4 linked regions of the Homo sapiens genome follow. The protein of the gene in region 2 purifies or fractionates together with the protein of the main gene of each other region. This does not show direct contact. Each region holds a gene or a part of one and is shown on either strand. Other genes may lie near its edges.

The links.
Region 1: the proteins of PEPD (region 2) and ASS1 fractionate together in Homo sapiens (co-fractionation; one large-scale study listed by BioGRID). This does not show direct contact.
Region 3: the proteins of PEPD (region 2) and FTO fractionate together in Homo sapiens (co-fractionation; one large-scale study listed by BioGRID). This does not show direct contact.
Region 4: the proteins of PEPD (region 2) and GNS fractionate together in Homo sapiens (co-fractionation; one large-scale study listed by BioGRID). This does not show direct contact.

Annotation. Positions count from the first base shown.
Region 1 is NC_000009.12:130,499,368-130,501,774, forward strand, and holds the end of ASS1 (argininosuccinate synthase), read left to right. Parts: intron 1-137; coding exon 138-203; intron 204-1,608; coding exon 1,609-1,654; 3' UTR 1,655-1,907; downstream 1,908-2,407. UniProt on the Homo sapiens protein: One of the enzymes of the urea cycle, the metabolic pathway transforming neurotoxic amonia produced by protein catabolism into inocuous urea in the liver of ureotelic animals.
Region 2 is NC_000019.10:33,410,292-33,413,791, reverse strand, and holds part of PEPD (xaa-Pro dipeptidase), read left to right. Parts: intron 1-148; coding exon 149-217; intron 218-2,042; coding exon 2,043-2,120; intron 2,121-3,500. UniProt on the Homo sapiens protein: Dipeptidase that catalyzes the hydrolysis of dipeptides with a prolyl (Xaa-Pro) or hydroxyprolyl residue in the C-terminal position.
Region 3 is NC_000016.10:53,819,156-53,822,655, forward strand, and holds part of FTO (alpha-ketoglutarate-dependent dioxygenase FTO), read left to right. Parts: intron 1-3,500.
Region 4 is NC_000012.12:64,738,907-64,742,406, reverse strand, and holds part of GNS (N-acetylglucosamine-6-sulfatase precursor), read left to right. Parts: intron 1-1,718; coding exon 1,719-1,801; intron 1,802-2,907; coding exon 2,908-3,026; intron 3,027-3,500. UniProt on the Homo sapiens protein: Hydrolyzes 6-sulfate groups in N-acetyl-d-glucosaminide units of heparin sulfate and keratan sulfate.

The DNA of each region.
Region 1 (2,407 bases), on a different chromosome or scaffold from region 2:
GTGCAGGGAGGGTTTGGACCCACACAGGGGAAATGCCCTGGCATCTGGGAGGTGGGGCTGCTTCTGGCCCCAGCAGTCCTCCCTTCAAGCAGAGGCCAGGGCCAGGCTGAGCTGACAAGCTTCTACTCTCCTTGCAGCATGAACGTGCAGGGTGATTATGAGCCAACTGATGCCACCGGGTTCATCAACATCAATTCCCTCAGGTGAGAAGCTCAGGGCCCTGACGGGCCTTCAGAGCCTCCAGGTGTAAAGGGTAGGCTTTGAGAGCCCCCAGGTGTAAAGGGTAGGCTTTGATGCGACCTTGACTGCTGCCCTGCCCTGCCCTGCCCTGCCCTAGACAAACCCCACTTTCCTGTCCATCTGCCCATAGCATCCTCAGAAGCATGCTTTGATAGCCGACAGTAACAGAGGGTCCTAGGCATTGGGGTCCTAGGTTCCTGTGTCCCACCGGGTGCCTCTGATACTTGCCCTCCCCTCCCGCTAAGCCACAGGGACTCCACTATGAGCTCCTTTGCAGGGCAGGTTAAACAAGGAAATAGCATAGAGGTGGAGAGAAGCCTTTGTTTTCTGTCACCATACCTGAGCTGTAGGTCTAGCTGGAAGCCATCCTAGCCACGTGGATCTCCATGGCCCAGGAGGGTGGTGCACGTCATCTGAAGTCACTCAGACCTTTGATCCTCTGTGAGTCACCAGTAAGAGTGTCAGCTGTACCTGCCTCACAGATGCAGTGAAGGTTCAATATGAGCCTGTGGAAATCAAGCATGCGGCTCAGGCTTAGACCCTGGCATGCAGGAAGAGCCAGGGGCAGTGCCAGCAGCAAGCACACTCAGCCCAGGGCCGGTGTGCTCAAGGGCAAACAGGGTCGTTTGTCACCAGCAGCTAACATAGACTAAGCTGCTCTGGGACACTCTCCTAGGATGTCTCATTTAATTCTTACACAAAATTTGCAACTCCCCGGGAACAGGCTGAGTGGTTAAGTAACTTTCCAAGGGTCACACAGCTAGGAGGTGGTGGAGCTGAGTCCGGAGGGCCTGTCCTGCTGTGGGTTCTCCATCACCAGCTCCCTTCTCATGGGGATTGGAGTCTAGAAGAAGATGCAAGTCAGTCTCCTCTTGCTAACAACATGCCCTGGGCACAGAGCCATCATTTTCTCCCAGAGCCAGTCTCTTGTCCCTGGAGGCACCTCATGCCCCGAGAGATGTTGAAGCCCGCCCATCTGCCCAGGGTCCTCTCCCTTCCCCTCCGTCACCTCCACCTCCCCTGCCTCCTGCGCCCTCTGTTTGTATTTTATGACTCTATAAACCCTTTTAAATGGCCCAGAACAAACAGGGCTTACATAGTGGCCTCTTCATTTCTCCTATTGCCAGTTAAACGCTTTGTCTTCAACAATGACAAACAATGTTTTCCCCCTAAGATAAATTAATTACATTATCCTGATTGGAGGGCAGGAGGGGCCAGGGCGGGAGAGGGAATAGAAAAAAAGGCAACTTCACACACATCTTAACAAACAGCTGCCCCAGCCACCCCAGCTCTGCCTGAATTAATTGAACCCAGTGTGTGTTGTTATTGTTAATTTACATTTTTCTTTGTTTTGAATCTGGTTTACAGGCTGAAGGAATATCATCGTCTCCAGAGCAAGGTCACTGCCAAATAGACCCGTGTACAATGAGGAGCTGGGGCCTCCTCAATTTGCAGATCCCCCAAGTACAGGCGCTAATTGTTGTGATAATTTGTAATTGTGACTTGTTCTCCCCGGCTGGCAGCGTAGTGGGGCTGCCAGGCCCCAGCTTTGTTCCCTGGTCCCCCTGAAGCCTGCAAACGTTGTCATCGAAGGGAAGGGTGGGGGGCAGCTGCGGTGGGGAGCTATAAAAATGACAATTAAAAGAGACACTAGTCTTTTATTTCTAGTGAGTGTGTGTGTGTGTGTGTGTGTGTGTGTGTGTGTGTGTGTGTGTGTAGTTAATTATGGTTTTCTTAGGCCAACCTTTGTGTTTTCGGACCTAAGTGCTGCCGAAGGCCGCCATTTGCCAGACAGCCTGTTAATCTGGCAGTCGACCCCTCTCCAGCAAAAACTAGGAATCCAGAAGTGCCGCCTGGGTCCGATCCTAGCCAGCATCCTGGGAATCTGTCACCAACTGTGGTCCTGTGGCAAATGTCAGGAAACCAAATAAAATTCAGGGAATGCCCTTTGGGGGCATCAACGCACAGCCCTTTCTCTGGACATCACTTTTACTCACAGCCCACAGGGAGCTTCTATAGAGGGTGGCCATGAGTGACCCTAGGACACTTACCACAGCTGCATGGCCTAAAGCAGCCTAAATCATGAAGGAGGAGGGAGAGGCCTGAGCAGAGAGGAGAAAAGAGCAAGCCCGGAACTTGGCAGCATTTCTCATTGTCCACAAACCAG
Region 2 (3,500 bases):
CACAGACTCACACTGAGAGTTTGGACCATTGTGGGGCCACGGCAGGGGAGACCATGGGCCGAGGGCCTTCCCTTGGGGTTCATGGGGCTCGTGGAGTGGGGTGTGCCTGCTCTAGTGCCCCAACCCTGACGCGTCTCTCCCCCTGCAGCCTCTTCGAGCACTACTGCTACTCCCGGGGCGGCATGCGCCACAGCTCCTACACCTGCATCTGCGGCAGGTAAGCGGGGCACCCTGGCTCCCCTGGGGGTGACCAGTGGGAGGAGGTAGGGCAGTTAGTGAGTGGGGGGCTCCACCATCCCCCAGCTCAGCCACACTTGCTCACTCACACGCCCACACCAGCGCCCGGCCCAAGCTTGGAAGTCGCTCCTCCCTCCCAAGACTCCCGGAGCTGAGGTGGCCTCTGCCTGCAGGACCTGGCACTGGGTGAAGGAGGGAGCATGGCCTGCCCACTGCAGAGGGGCTGCTTGGCGTCCCCTCCCTCCTGTCCCCAGCTGGTCAGCACAGCAGCTAAGCACAGGAAGGCCACTCCTCCACACGGGCACACACACAGCATGTGGGGACCGGGCTGTGAGCTCAGGCTGGGCAGCTTCTGTGTGCAGCAGGGGTGGAGTGTGGAAGGGTCAGTGCAGAAAGTGGTGGTGGTGTGTCTATGTGGGTGTGGCTGCGTGGGGACCAGTGCTGCTGTATGTGGGTGTGCATGTCACTGTTGGTGTGCCTGCTCGTGGCACATGGTGCCGAGGGGCAGGGCTCTGTGTGGGTGTGTGCGCTTGGGTGTGTGCCATCAACACCTGGCTGGGTGTGCTTGGAGGCACACACATGGTAGAAATGACAGTGATATGGGATCATTGCCATGCTGTGTGGGCCATGCACAGCGGCATGTGTCCCTTGGGGTGTGTCTGCCCCCACATGCGTCCTGGCTGTGGGCGTGGCCCCCTCGTCTCCTGCGCTCTCCCAGCCAGTCTCCCTGCTCTCTGCCCCTCGGGTCTGGCCCCTGCCCGGCCAGGATGGAGCCAGGCAGCTCTGCCAATGCGCACGTCCCCGGCACATGAATAATACATGTGAAATCTCAGTCCTTGGAAATGTTCTTCTCTGGTGGATGGAGAGAAAACCATTATTTCTACTTTTATGATTCCCAAGACTCCTGAGCAGGGCCATAAATATTACACCCAGGTGGGGGTTTCCTTCCCCCCTTTGGACAGACTTAAAAGTCCTTTTTTTCTTAAAGGCATCGCTCATTAGGGAAGCCTTCTCAGGCAGAGGAGCGAGGATCCTCTTGGTTTCCTCTCTCTCCAGCCTGGTCAGGACGCCAGGGCAGCTCCAGGACAGCCGGGGCCCTTTCCATAGAGGCCCTCTCCCCTTTGGCCACCAGGAAAGGAGGGGTTCCGTAGGGCCCTTCTCCAGGCCCAGGAACTGCTGTTCCCCTTTTTTGCTCTTTTTTTAATTTAAAGACAGGGTCTCCCTCTTTTGCCCAGGCTGGAGTGCGGTGGCATGATCATAGCTCATTGCAGTCTCCACTTCCCAGGCTCAGGTGATCCTCCTAGCTCAGCCTCCTGAGTAACTGGGATTACAGCTGTGAGCCACCTAACCCAGCTAATTTTTTTTGCATTTTCTGTAGAGGTAGGGTTTCGCCATGTTGCCCAGGCTGGTCTCGAACTTGTGGGCTCAAGTGATCTGCCTTTCTTGGCCTCCCAAAGTGCTGGCATGACAGGCGTGAGCCACCACACCCGGCCCATTGCTAAGTTTTACATGTGTTCCACATGATGCCCACATCCCAGCCCAGAGGGCAGCCGCCTAACGACGCCTTCAGCCAGGAGGCTCTGCCTGCAGACTGAGGCTGGTTGCCAGCCATGTGACTGCGGGGTGACAGGGCCACCATGTCCCCCGGCCTTACCTCTGGCTGTGGACCTGGTCCAGCCACGCCTGGGCCTGTGCTGGAGGTGGGGACAGTGCTGCTCATGGGCAGGGGATCGAGCATCCACCCCCTCCTTCAGAGCCTGCTGCAGAAGAATGGGCTTTGATCACCCTCCCCCGGCTCTTTGCAGTGGTGAGAACTCAGCCGTGCTACACTACGGACACGCCGGAGCTCCCAACGACCGAACGATCCAGAATGGGGATATGTGGTAAGTAGGGCCAGCGGCCCTGGCTCTGTGTGTGAACAGCCAGGCCAAGGTTGGACTCAACTTCAAGATGGCCCAGAAGCCTCTGGGTCCCTGTCCTGAGAGGGCTGACCACAGCAAGTCCCTGGGCTTCTTGGCCCAGACTTCTCTGCCAAGGCTATCGGCCTGCGTGGTGCCTTCTCCAGGGCCAAAAGCCTGCACCCCCCAGGGAGCACTGAGAGAGAGGGTGCAGGAGAGGGGCCCCCGATGGTTTCCTGTGGGCCATGGGATTGTGGGCTCTCTGAGGGGGCCTGAACCATCCCCAGCCTCTGTCCAGGCTGTCCTCTCCGTTCAGGGGGCACCACGCTCGCATCTTTCTGTCTTGGTGCCAGGAGGGCAGGCCTCTTGGTCTGGAGCTGGGAAGACCGCAGGGAGCCTCCCACGCTCTGAAACCTGCCATCCTCCTGCTGCAGGAGCCCGTGGCCTCTGCGGCCCTGCGTTCAGCAAGTCAGCAGTGCTGACCCGTGGCTGCGTGCAGGGCTTTCCTGAGCACGATGTGCCGTGCTCACAGTTCTTCATAGAAGCCACGACAAGGAGATGTGGGCAGGCCCTGCGGCCTCCGCCCCTCGGGTAGTCTTTTCTCTCATTGGAGGACTTGCAGTCCTACCCACAGCCCCTCGGTGTGCAGGGCAGAGCAGCTGGGCCGCTGCCCCGGGGCAGGGAGGAGGTGTGTGAGTACTTGCAGCCTGGCCTCTGCTCAGTCCCTCCGCGTTCTTTGCCTGTGCCCTGCACGTCAGATGTCAGCCAGGGCCAGCCCAGGCAGTGCAGAGCTCCTGAGAGCTACCCCAGTGCTGGAGCCCTGGGGCTCAGCCACAGCCACGCAGGCCCTGTCTTGGCCTCCAGACATTTCACTGTGGTCACTGACTAGCAGAGGATGTGCCTTGTCCCTCCCAGTTCTTTGGTGCCCTTTCTTCTATGGCAGATGCACCCGAACAAGCCTCCTGCAGAGCCCTCTGCCCCCCAGCAGCATGGCATGTCCTCTGAGGCCTGCGTGGCGCCCAGCTGGGCTGCCTCCGCCTTCCCATCGAGGAGCCACCCCAATGTGCCAGCTCCTCCAGCGGGAGTTCCCATGATGGCTGCTCACCGGCCTGGACCCCGCCTCACCCTACAGCAGGTAGTCGTGGGAGCCCACCCCCCAGAGTCCCCAGCCATGCCCACTGAAGGACAGGAACACACATGCCCAGACCTATGGACAGACAACCAGCTGCCCAGAGAGCTGCCGAGCGTTGAGCTGTCAGGGCCGAGTATTTGCAGGAACACACTCAGTCTCGGGGTCCTCCCTGCCCTTGGGCACATGGCCTACTGAGACTGCCCGGGCTCCCCGCTCACCCAGGTCCATAGCTG
Region 3 (3,500 bases), on a different chromosome or scaffold from region 2:
ATATATTTTCCAACTTTGATACAGTTAATATTTATTTATTTATCTATCTTTGAAATGGGGTCTCACTCTGTGGCCCAGGCTTAGGCTCACTTCAGCTTCCACTTCCTGGGCTCAAGCCATCCTTCCACCTCAGCTGCCCAAGTAGCTGGGACCACAGGTGCATGCCACCACACCTGGCTAATTTTTTTGTATTGTTAGTAGAGAGGGGATTTCACCTTGTTGCCCAGGCTAGTCTCGAGCTCGTCAGCTCAAGCAATACACCCGCCTGAGTCTCCCAAAGTGCTGGGATTACAGGTGTGAGCCACCACGCCCAGGCAGTTAATTTTTTTATGTGCTAAGAGGCTTCTCTATTAATTTGCTTGTGAATGGGTGTGTGTGTGTGTATTTAAATTTTTAATGGTTCTGCATTAATGTTTCTGCATTCCTGCCATATAGGTTGTACTTTTTTTTTCCAGTTTGTTTGCCTTTTAATTTTATGATTTATTTTATACAAAAATTTAAATTTTCAGATATTCACATCTATCAATCTTCTTTTTCAAAAAGTTTATTGATTAACTGTATATGTGTATAATTTACATACCATAAAATGCACGTTTTGAAATTGTACAATTCAGTGATTTTTGGTAAATTTCCAGAGGCATACAACCATCATCACAGTAGTTTTAGAACATTTTTAGCACCCCAAAAAGATCTCTCATGCCTCTTTACATTTAGTTTTCTTTCCTGCCCCAGCCAAGATCTCCACTCATCTGCTTCAGTCTTTTAAAGCTTTTATTCTTAGAAAGGAGTCTTGAGCACTTATGTGGAACCAAGTGATGTGGCTATAACAGATACTAATGCTATTTTCTTCTTCTTCTTTTTTTTTTTTTTTGAGATGGAGTCTTGCTCTGTCACCCAGGCTGGAGTGCAGTGGTGTGATCTCGGCTCACTGTAACCTCTACCTCCCGGGTTCAGGTGATTCTCCTGCTTCAGCCTCCTGAGTAGCTGGGATTACAGATGCCCGCCACCACGCCCAGCTAGTTTTTGTATTTTTAGTAGAAACAGGGTTTTACCTTGTTGGCCAGGTTGGTCTCGAGCTCCTGACATCAGATGATCCAGCTGCCTCGGCCTCCCAAAGTGCTGGGATTACAGGTGTAAGCCACCGCTCCAGGCCACTAGTACTATCTTCTTTTAGGAGCTTGTGATCTTACAGGACAGATTATTAAACTAATAATAGTTTAAATAAATATAGTTACAAATAGATAAGTGCTACAAAAGAGAAGTAAAGCGTGGGGAGTGATAACAGAGGGCACCTATTTGAGGGTGGAGATTCAGGAAAGGTTTCCTTTTTTTTTTTATTATACTTTAAGTTTTAGGGTACATGTGCACATTGTGCAGGTTAGTTACATATGTATACATGTGCCATGCTGGTGCGCTGCACCCACTAACTCATCATCTAGCTTTAGGTATATCTCCTGATGCTATCCCTCCCCCTCCCCCCACCCCACAACAGTCCCCAGAGTGTAATATTCCCCTTCCTGTGTCCATGTGATCTCATTGTTCAATTCCCACCTATGAGTGAGAATATGCGGTGTTTGGTTTTTTGTTCTTGCGATAGTTTACTGAGAATGATGATTTCCAGTTTCATCCATGTCCAGGAAAGGTTTCTATAAGAAAATGACCCAGGGATGGGAAGGACCATCCAGGTGTGGAGTTGGGGGAGGAGCCTGGGGGAAGTATTTAAGAGCTGGACACTTGAGGACTGCAGGAATAGAAGCACATATGGTCAGAGAGAAAGGGGACATGATCTGAGTGGGAAAAAAATGGAATATTTTCCCATGCCATTATTTTCTTTTTATGCTGTTTTTTATGTCAAGGTATTTACAGATGATATTTATGTGGTTATATGTTTTTCCTGGTCTATAGGGTTATAATTTCCCCATATTAAATATATCTTATGCAGTGTTGAGACCCAGTGTATGTTGAATAAGGGCAGCAGAATTTTAATGGGGGGTGGGCAGGCGTTTGTGCATATGAGTGCATTATTTTCAGTATTCCTTTCTTAGTCCCAGAGGGGAGTGTGTTCAGAAACAGAGTTCTTGGGAATTACCATACTTTTCTTTATTGTTTTATACTAAGGACCATTCAGAGAGTACTGGAGGTGTTAAGACAGTGTGAAGAAATTACCTTCTTCATCACTTCTTCATCATTGCTTTGAGTATACTGGGGCCTCAGGGACTTGCTAAGAAAGTAACCAGTATAGTGATAGAATTAGAGTTGCTGCTCATGGCTTCAGAATATTTGGTCTCTGCTTACAGGATTGCATTGCTTTCTTCATAAGCTATGTAAATAGAAAGTACGATATCACTGTTTCTGTTTTCCAATGGGGATAACTAAAATATGGAAACTCAATCCTTAATGGATCCCTGACAATCTCAATGACAATCCATAGTGGTATGCCACATGACTCTTCTCTTTGTCACTTTCAATTCATGGTCAACACCTCAGATAGGCATTTTGAGAAGCAGGGCAGTCCTACCACACTTACCTAGTAAAGTCATTTTTTCACATTCAGACTTGACTCATTCATTTTTCTTCTGCATACTTCCTCCCACTTTCTGCATGTCTTCTATAATATCTCCTGCACTCTGCCTCATTCAGAACAGGCTAGATTATGCTATAGTAACTGATAACTCTCAAATCTCAGTGGCTCCACACAATAATATTTCTTGTCCATTTTATGTATCATTTGTGGGTTGGCACAGAGTCACTACCCATTAAAGTAGCTCAGAGATCCAAGCAGCCACCAGCTGGTTGCTGTGGCAGAGGGGTGCAGAGTATGCTGGAGGGTCTTGCAGTGACAATGACATGTTCCAGGCTGGAAGGGATGGCCATCATTTTTCACTGGACAGAAGTAATCCCATGTTTCATCCATCCTGAGGGGACCAGGAAGTGTAATTTTACACTGGGCCCAAAAAGCTGGGTGGCAGAGGAGGAATCCAGAACTATTTGGCAAACAGCTCTAATGACCAGCATACATTCTTAGCTAGTGATTCACCTTAACTTCATTGAGAAAGTCAGAGCATTCTCTAACTACCACCCCTCCAAAAGAAACCCTAGAACGTACTCATCTGCCTACTATTATTACATTTATCATCCTATCTGAATTCATACCTTCTTTTTCCTTCTAGCCTATTCCAATATAAGAAGTATCTTCTCTCCTATCCACATATTTTTGATCACATACTCTTATCAGTAGATAAGCACATACAGTGACATCCTAGAAAGTGTTTAACAAGTGGCCTGTAGGGGGAAAGAACCAGCCTTGATTTTTAGTGTTTTTTGATTTCCGCAGTGTAAATACTCTCACTGTGGACAGTTTCAAGCCACCGTCACGGTGTTACTGAATGTGCAGTTGGAAAGAGATGCACACAGTGGGCTCTCATGAGCCAGTGTGGACTGACTCCAGCACACCACCAGTAGTGTGCTGGTGGTAGTACTCATGTACTCGTGTCTGTTTT
Region 4 (3,500 bases), on a different chromosome or scaffold from region 2:
ATTAGCATATTGTCTGGCACATTATAGGCATGTGCTTGTTAAATACAGTTTCAAAGCTGAGTGAACTGTGTTTTAAATTAGAGTACTGGCCGGGCGCAGTGGCTCATGCCTGTAATCCCAGCACTTTGGGAGGCCAAGGCGGGCGAATCACGAGGTCAGGAGATTGAGACCATCCTGGCTAACACAGTGAAACCCCATCTCTACTAAAAGTACAAAAAATTAGCCGGGCGTGGTGGTGGACACCTGTACTCCCAGCTACTCGGGAGGCTGAGGCAGGAGAATGGCGTGAACCCGGGAGGCGGAGCTTGCCGTGAGCCGAGATCGCACCACTGCACTCCAGCCTGGGAAACAGTGCAAGATTCCATCAAAATAAAATAAAATAAGATGAGATGAGACAAGATAAGATAAAATAAAATAAAATAAATTAAAAAATAGTAAAATAGGACGATTCTCAATCTGTGTTCCAAAAGAAGTTAATAAAAAGTTCCCATGGTCAAGTAAGTTTGGAAAGTTTGAGTTAAATAAGTCACTCTGCTACAGGACTTCTCAGAGTTATTCATGATCGAATGTGAATTTCTAGCAGGAGAATATGCTATACAGCATTTCTCAAACTTAATAACACTTTGAGGAGCATAGTTTGAGATCTGGTGGCTTAGGGTTTTACGAATAGAGAAGAGAGAATAGTATATAGGGATGTCTTTGTTTAAATGGGAGGGCCCTCCAGATTTAGACTTGAAGTTTTAGGAAATTGCTGTAATAAGATTTTTCCTTAGGATCTAGGGTGACCGATATCTTGGCTAGGCAAAACTTAGAGGAAGGTAGACCAGGTATGGTGGCTTATGCTTGTAATCCCAGCACTTTGGGAGGCTAAGGCAAGAGGATCACCTGAGGCCAGGAGTTCAAGACCAGCCTGGCGAACATGATGAAACCCCATCTCTACTGAAAATACAAAAATTAGACAGGCATGTTGGTGCACGCCTGTAATCCCAGCTACTCAGGTGGCTGAGGCATGAAAATCGCATGAACCCGGGAGGCACAGGTTGCAGTGAGCCGAGATCGTGCCACTGTACTCCAGCTTGGGCTTGGGCTGGAGTGTAGTAGTGCGATCTCGGCTCAATGCAACCTCCGCCTCTGTCTCAAAAAAAGCAACTTAGAGGAAGGTAAAGTTATTTGCCCATTTTCTTTTTTTTTTTTTTTTTTGAGACGGAGTCTCGCTCTGTCGCCCAGGCTGGAGTGCAGTGGCGGGATCTCGGCTCACTGCAAGCTCCGCCTCCCGGGTTCACGCCATTCTCCTGCCTCAGCCTCCCAAGTAGCTGGGACTACAGGCGCCCGCCACTACGCCCTATTTGCCCATTTTCTAATTGTAGTAGACCAAAGGCATAAGATCAGAGTTGTAAATGTAATCTCGCTTTAGCTAGTAGTTTCCCAGTGACATCCTCTAAAATCTCTTAATACTGCCAACAGAGAAGCCAAGACCTTTTATGGTTTGGGAGGTGCTGGGAAGCTGAAGAATGAGAGATTGAGTTAATCTACAGAAATTTCTATTTTAGGAACACAGGAAGGGAGAGAAGTTCTGAAATTGCTTAAACAAGTTCCAGTTAGTTCCTTCTTGCTGAAGTATGAGTGAAACGGTTCTATTTATTATCTACTGTAGTAATCCAGTAGTTTGTTTGACTGTGGTGACTTGGTGTTAACATTTTTTTTCTTCTAAATTTTAGAACAAGCACTGGTTAATTAGGCAAGCCAAGACTCCAATGACTAATTCTTCAATACAGTTTTTAGATAATGCATTTAGGAAAAGGTAAGAGCTGCTGCTACATAACAATCTGAGTGGTTTTAAAGACCCTGCAAATCAGCTCATGAAGAGGAGACCACACCACATTGTTGTCTCTGAAACAAAAACAGAGGGAAGCAAGTCAGTGGGAGAGAGGCTTCGATGGGGCACCAGAAGCAGAGAGATTCCTTTACACTCAAATGAATGAGGTGGCATTTGGACCCCAGTACTAATTAGACTGCCCATTTTTAGGACTTGGCAAAAGTCTTGCAAACTTGAACCATGTGGTAGAATTTTTTCTCCTGCTTTAAAGAAAAGGTGACTTGGTTGAGAGAGCCCATTGTCATATGTGACAAATGACCCAAAAGCTTAGACAAGATCAAAATATCTGCCTTTGCCATTTGGAATTTTCAAGAAATTCTCTTAAGTCAATTTTTAAAAATCCATTACTTTCTCTTAGGAAGTGTTTAGTGTAGACCAGGGATAAGCAAACTTTTTCTGTAAAGGGGCAGATAGTAAATATTAATAGGCTTGCAGGTCATACATTCTGTCACAACTACTCAGCTCTGCTGTTGTAGCACAAAAGCAGCCCTGGGTAACATGTAAATGAATGAGCATGGTTGTGGTCCAATAAAACTTTATAAAAACAGACAGTGGGCAAGCTTTGGCCCATGAGTCATAGCTTGCCAGCTCCTAGTTCAAACATCTTAAGCTTTTTTGTAGCACAGTCCTATCTGAATTAATCTGTAATACACAGTACTGAGAATGGACAACTCTTCCTTCCGATTGTCTCTACTCTCATCACTATTGCCAATAAAAAGTAAAGCTAACTGGTTATTTAAAAACGAGTTTATTTCTTTGGAAACAATTAACTTTGGAATGAATTAATTATGTTCTGGAATTTTCTAATCTGTTTTTTACAATGGGAAGGTCTAGGGAATGGAGATTGGGGATTTGAGTTTTGGGGGAGAGTGTTTTGCAATTTTTTTTTTTTAAACGGGGGTTGTTTTGGATTTTTTTTTTTAAACGGGGGTGTCTTTGTTTTTGTTTTTGGTTTTTTTTTTTTTTGGCAAGATAGTGATACCTCAGCCATTGCCCCTGAAGTCCCATTTCTACCTTCTGTTCACATCCAGGTGGCAAACTCTCCTCTCAGTTGATGACCTTGTGGAGAAACTGGTCAAGAGGCTGGAGTTCACTGGGGAGCTCAACAACACTTACATCTTCTATACCTCAGACAATGGCTATCACACAGGTCAGAGGCAGGAGTAGGTACTGCTGTGATCTTTGAGAATATGTCTTTCCTTTTTCACCCAATGAGCCCTGGGAGGGAGTTCTAGTCTTTTTATAACTGTGGACATGCCAGAGGGAGGATCTTGCCCTCAGGACCCCTCCAGTTGGAGCACCACATCATACCCACGTGGAGAAACCAGGTTTCATTATTTGCTGTTTCACATGCAAGATGACATGGTGTTCTAGGAGTGGGAGCAGAGCATGAGCTTGATGGGTTGGAGGCAGGCCGTATGGAAGGCATTTGAGATAGGAAGACCAAAAGGAGGTTGTCTTGGGAAAACTTTCTTGCCATTCATGGAATTTGTTTTTTGGGTGTTTTTGTTTTTTTCAAAAGCTGCAGGATGAGTCAGCTCTGTGTCCTTGACTTTCATGCTTTCTGCTTGGACCTTCTGTTGTTAAAAGCAAATGTTTTCTTCTTTCCACATATATAAATGTC